Regions from separate parts of the Homo sapiens genome. Here region 2 is linked to region 1. The links come from fine-mapping of genetic effects on gene expression. A gene starts in region 1. The other region holds a variant in brackets. All regions are shown on one strand. Distances are from middle to middle. Region 1 holds the start of SWT1 (SWT1 RNA endoribonuclease homolog). Region 2 overlaps SWT1 (SWT1 RNA endoribonuclease homolog).

The links. PIP is the estimated chance that this variant, and not a neighbour inherited with it, causes the effect. A credible set is the group of variants that fine-mapping cannot tell apart.
Region 2: its variant is the best candidate, but not a certain one, in a credible set for the expression of SWT1 in whole blood (INTERVAL, PIP 0.82).

The regions. Positions count from the first base shown.
Region 1 is chr1:185,155,876-185,158,787 of GRCh38, forward strand. SWT1 (SWT1 RNA endoribonuclease homolog) reads left to right here and starts at 1,292. Exons shown (of 19, transcript NM_017673.7): 1 at 1,292-1,439. It overlaps TRMT1L (tRNA methyltransferase 1L), which reads right to left and starts at 1,078. Exons shown (of 15, transcript NM_030934.5): 1 at 603-1,078. The coding sequence starts at 837. RefSeq lists enhancers at 166-1,071, 915-1,024 and silencers at 575-824, 1,565-1,684.
Region 2 is chr1:185,182,597-185,185,508 of GRCh38, forward strand. It overlaps SWT1 (SWT1 RNA endoribonuclease homolog), which reads left to right. Exons shown (of 19, transcript NM_017673.7): 8 at 1,647-1,748; 9 at 2,147-2,335. Among named protein-coding and RNA genes, the nearest start is that of SWT1, 27 kb to the left of the region's middle. The variant G/GT (reference allele first, on the strand shown) is at 1,817.

The sequences.
Region 1 (2,912 bases):
TATGTATGGGGGAAAACATCCGTAAATTTAGTCGACTCTTTCCTAAACTACTACTCAGCCTCAAAATCTTTTCGGAGGCAAGCTGCTAGCGGGGGAAAAGAAAACTGAAATGAGAAAAACTCATCTCCTTGTGGCTGTCGAAGCAGAAAAGCTAGTTGACAGTAATGGTTTAGAAATGTTGGCAGCTAGGATCTACTACCGTAAACAGGTTGCCTCGGTTACTATGTCACATTTGAAAGAACTTAGTTAACCATGGCAGACTGGACTGCGGGAAACTACCAAATTATGTGTAACTTCCTATTTTTGTACCTTAAAAAGACTCCCTTTTAAGAAAAAGCCCTTAACCTCATTATTTCCTTCTATCTGCAGCATTCCTGCTCTCCGCATATCCCTCACCGTGACATCCTCGAGGCTTATGAAGATGCCGTCTCCCATTCTGTAACCCTGCTTTAGCCGCTACACGGGCCCCTCTTTCCTCCCCACCATTTTCCTAAACCTGCCTTGCCCCATAAAAACCATCCCGGTGAAGGGCCTCCCCTACTTCCCAGCAAGGCGCACTTTCTCTCTTCTGCAGCAGAAAGATCTGGGCCTTCTGCACTTACTGCTTTTAGCCTCCTCAGGGGCAGAGGCTAGGGACGGGGACAGGGCCGGAGCCTGGGCCAGGGCAGGGGCTGGGGCTGGAGCCGAGGCCGGAGTCGGAGCCGAGTCCAGAGCCGAATCCGGGGCCGGAGCTGGGACCCCAGCCGAGTCCCGGGCCGGGGTCGGGACCTGGACCTGGGCCACCTCCACCTCCTCCTTCTCCAGGGGCAGCAGCTCCTCCTCCGCCATATTCTCCATAGTTACCGCCTCCGTGCCAAGCCCGCCCGGGGACCCGGAGCGGGGCTCACGGCGGGGTCAGAGAACTGACGTGAATGCCCACAGGGCTGGATCCAAGGAGTGGGGAAGCAAGTGGGGAGGGCGGGATGCGTGCAACAGACAAAAGATGAAGAACCAGTGACCAAATCCTGTTAGTAGAAAACAGAAAGCCAGAGGCAGCGATTCCAGATGCCCGTCCGCTTCCCTTTCCCCGAGGCGTTACGACGCCACCACAAACTGCGCAGAAGCGTACTGGGGACGGCGTCCAATTGGGTAAGAGGGTTCGGTTTCTACGGTGCGTCTCCGGCCCACCGGCCAACCACCAAACCGAACAAAGACTACAGCACCCAGGATACACTGCGCAGTCTGGGGGCGGGGCCGGAGTTCAAGCCTCGGAGGAAGTAAATGCAAATCTAAGCGAGCGCTGTGGGGCGGTGAGTAGGTAGTGCGGATGCGGGCGCAGAACTACGTTTCCCAGCAGGCATACAGTTGGTGGGGCGGGGTGTGTGTGTGTGTTGGGAGGCGGGGGTCCCTCTCCTTTGGCTTGGGGCTCCGGAGTTGCCACTGCCGCCGGCGCTGGTAAGGTAGGAACTGCGGGGTGCGTTGACGTTTTGCTGGGCAGGTTCCCCCTCGTCCCCCGCCCCAAGTATACTGGCGGGCGGGCGGCCGGCCGGACTGGGGACTCAGGAGTCACACGGACCTGGGCGGGGCGACTCTGTGGGCGGGTCCGGGGACGAGCCAGCTCCGTGGAGGGTGTGGTTCTGGCCCGGCTTGCCTCCGGGGCTGCCCCTTGCCCGGTGTTGGGGTCTGGTCGGTTCGTGCGGAGCCCGCGGGCCCGCGGCGGTTTACTAGCAGCTGACGAGCTTGCCTGTCCATCCAGCTGACTTGGAATTAGGGTCTGTTCTTCATTTCGCACCCTCACCTACACCGTGACCCGAACACTCTTTTCCTTTGTTTTTATTTTTGCTTTAGTCTTCATGTTGCCAGTATCAGCAGTTCTGCGGTGTGGCCAGTGGATAGAAATTAGTTGTTTTGCTCTATTTTGCTTTGTTTTCAGGCTTTTAATAACCAGAGCTCTGAGTGGGTAGAGCTTCGGGGCATTTAATTTTGATGCGTTTCAGATCCCCAAAACATATGCTAGCGAGTCCCCTGTCCCCCGTACTTCTCTCCCCTTCACTCTTAGTGCCTACTTGACATTCGAGCCTTTCTTGTTTCTTTCTTCTGTCCCCCCGCGATAAATCCACTGGGACAGAAAGGAGAAAAACGTGAACTTTCTGGCTGCCCTGCTTGGGCTTGGTCCGAACCTTCTAGGCATCAGGGCAGGAGAGGGAAGCCCAATTTAGTCTCAAGAACAAGACGCGCGCTTCCAGTTAGCTTTTCTTAGTTAATTAAGTTGATAAACGCCAATCTTCTTGGTCTATTTGTTTCCTACTTGTTTCAGAACCCCGGGGAAGAGATAGCATGATTATTTGGCACTTTGAAGCACTAACTGGAAATTAACTCCTCCCCCTATAGTTAAGAAGTATATATCTGGAGGGGTGTGTGTGTGTGTTTAACCTCTCCCCAGTTTAATGGGAACAGATTATCCCTGTGGAGCTTCTGTGAGTTATAGTCCTAAATCCCTTTTACTGATCGTCCCGTACAGCTTTTATCTAGTATTCCTGAATGTGTAGTTGACTCATGGCTCAACAGTCAATTAAAAATGGGATAACACTGACTATAACTTACAGAAATGCTAACTATATCTGTGCATCATCCAATAATTCTTGTTCTCATTTCTTTTTTTTTTTTTTACTGTCGTTCATGATGATTTTTTATTTCTAAATGACTAGATGGTTAACTGAAAGCTAGATTCAGTATGTTAATGTCATTTAACACCAGCTGGAAACCAGATTAAAAGGGTCAGATTTTAGTGTCTGGATTCTGTGGGAATTTTTGTAAGAATTTCTAAGCATGGTCTGTGCTTGTAAGACATCCTGAAGAAGGAATCGTCAATGTTTGAAGAATTAAATAATGTTATTCATCTATTGCTACTGCATAAGTTATACCAAAACATA
Region 2 (2,912 bases), 27 kb after region 1:
TGAGGCTGCAGTGTGCCAAGATTGTGCCACTGCATTCCAGCCTTGGTGACAGAACAAGACCCTCTCTCTCTCAAAAAAAAAAAAAAAAAAAAAAAAGAAAGAATGCAGATTGCTTGAAGGTATTATATTTATTGATTTCTTATTCATGTTGTGAAATTTTGATCATTTTTTTTGCTACTGGGAGAAGATAATGATAGAGATTATCCAAAATCTATCAGTGTACTGTTTCAAATTCCATTTTTAAAAATGGCAATGCTGACCGGGCACGGTGGCTCACGCCTGTAATCCCAGCACTTTGGGAGGCCAAGGAGGGTGGATCACCTGGGGTCAGGAGTTCGAGACCAGTCTGGCCAACATAGTGAAACCCCATCTCTACTAAAAATACGAAAAATTAGCTGGGCATGGTGGCCCATGCCTGTATTCCCAGCTACTCAGGAGGCTGAGGCAGGAGAATGGCTTGAACCTGGGAAGCAGAGGTTGCAGTGAGCCAAGATTGAGCCACTGCATTCCAGTCTGGGCAACAAGAGCAAAAATCCATCTCAAAAAAAAAAAAAAAGTAATGCTACCTTACATTCACATTGCAGTTTTCATCTTTCAAGTGTTTTCCTATGTATTATCTGATCCTCAAAATGGTCCTATGCAATAACAATGCTAGAATTATTATGTTTTTTCTTTTTTTGTTTGTTTGTGGGTTTTTCTTTTGTTTTTGTTTTTTTGAGACGGAGTGTCCTTCTGTCATCCAGGCTGGAATTGGAGCTATCTCCACTCACTGCAACCTGTGCCTCCCAGGTTCAAGCAATTCTCCTGCCTCAGCCTCCTGAGTAGCTGGGACTACAGGCGTGTGCCACCATGCCTGGCTAATTTTTAGTAGAGCTGGAGTTCCACTGTGTTGGCCAGGCTGATCTCGAACTCCTGACCTCAGGTGATTGGCCCGCCTCGGCCTCTCAAAGTGCTGGGATTACAGGCGTGAGCCACCAAGCCCAGCATGTATTTTCTTTTACACATATTCATCTTTCAATTATATTCACTCAGGATATGTTAAAATTAGCTTATAATTACTAAGTGCACAACTACCGGTGATCCATGACAGAAGTTAGAAACATAATTACTCCCCAGGCAAGTCAGTTCATAATTTAAAATCCACCTACAAGCAATTTATAGTATTCTACTGGTGGGTGATTAAACATTGATTACTATTCTTTCTCTTAAGAATCGAAGTAAAAGCAATTTTGTTTTTATTGTCTAAAGGACTTCTCTTAAGAATGCTCTCAAAAACATTCTCCATGGCTGGTTTTTCACAGTCTTGGCCCCAGGTTTCCCGTGTATTTCTGCTTTGCCAACCCTTACCTTCTCTGCCCACTTTGACTTAGACGATTCTCCACCCCACTCCCACTCCAAACAGGGGTTGCAATTCCTATCCAGAGGACCTTAATTGATTGGGGAGAAATTTACTTGGCAACAAGGATACGGGCCGGATAGATATCAGCTTGAGAGTCTAGCCAACTGTGTAAATCTCTGATACAGTTAACAAGACAAAGAGGCGTTTTAAATTTAATTGAATTTTCAATGCTTCTGTAATATCAAAATTTTAGTCATTATATAAGTCTGTTATCAAGTGTCATGAAATATTTGCTCTTTTTCTTTAGCAAATAATACTTCAGACAGAAAGCTTCTAATTGTTATTGACACAAATATTCTGATGAATCATCTCAAATTTGTTAGAATTTTGAAGACAACAGAAGTACCAGGTATTTACAGAACATATTTAAAGATTCTGATTTTCTTCCTTGAGTTGATATTTTATATTAACAATGAT[G/GT]GGCTTTTTTTGCCATGAACATGTCTCCATTTAGATATGCTATATATTAAGCATATTCAGTGTTATAAGTTTATAAAAGCCTTTACAGGTTAAACTAGCAATCTGAACTCACTCTTTTTTTGATCTCCAAGAGTAATTATTTTTTTAACATTCTTTTGACACGTTATTTTCTTTTTAATTTCCATTTTATAATATATTGTCTCTCAATTTATTGTGAATTTCCTAAAGGTAGGGACTGTGTGCTTTAAAACTTTTACCTCTTGGACAGCAATTCCATTTAGTAGCTCAATAAATGTTTGTTAAATTCTAAGAAATCTTTTTATTTTTTAGGTTTTGACAAACTTGTGTTAATAATTCCCTGGGTCGTTATGCAAGAGCTAGATCGTATGAAGGAAGGAAAACTACTAAAACGTGCCCAGCACAAAGCTATACCTGCAGTTCATTTCATCAACGACAGTCTCAAAAATCAAGATAGAAAGCTATGGGGTCAGTCAATACAACTTGCATCCCAAAAACATTGTAAGTATTGTTCTCTCAGAGTGCCTCCTGATTAATACTTGTTTGGGTGCAGACTCATTATTGGAGGGAAATGGTGCAAAACTTTTAAAACATTTAAACCCATTGGAATGTGAAATGGAAGGGGCATTGTGATGGTTTGTGGCTTAGTTTAGGAGTCTTTGACTTTTATTTTTCTGCTTCTCCTAGACGTTTTTACATTATGTCTATATTTCACAGATAGTGACTGTATAGTTGTGTATGCATAATTATCTATATCCCAGAACCTTGGACTCCTTTTTTAAAAATACCATTGCTGAGTGATGAAGTCTGTAAGTGATCTAGGTTTCTAGTCTGTTAATATCACCATATGCAGTTAATGTACTGTGGAGACGATGTTGCTTTCCTGTGGTTTGTCAGAATCGGTAATAATGAATGAGGTGTTTTTACAATAAAGTAGTGTATAGATTTTCCCCTCATTTAATTTTTTTCAATATTAGTTTCTATTAAGGCATTTAAAAAATTGCTTTAGTCTTAGAAGCTAAGGATGTTCTTTATGTTTTATATAATTTGCTGGAAAAATATCTATATATAAAGGAAC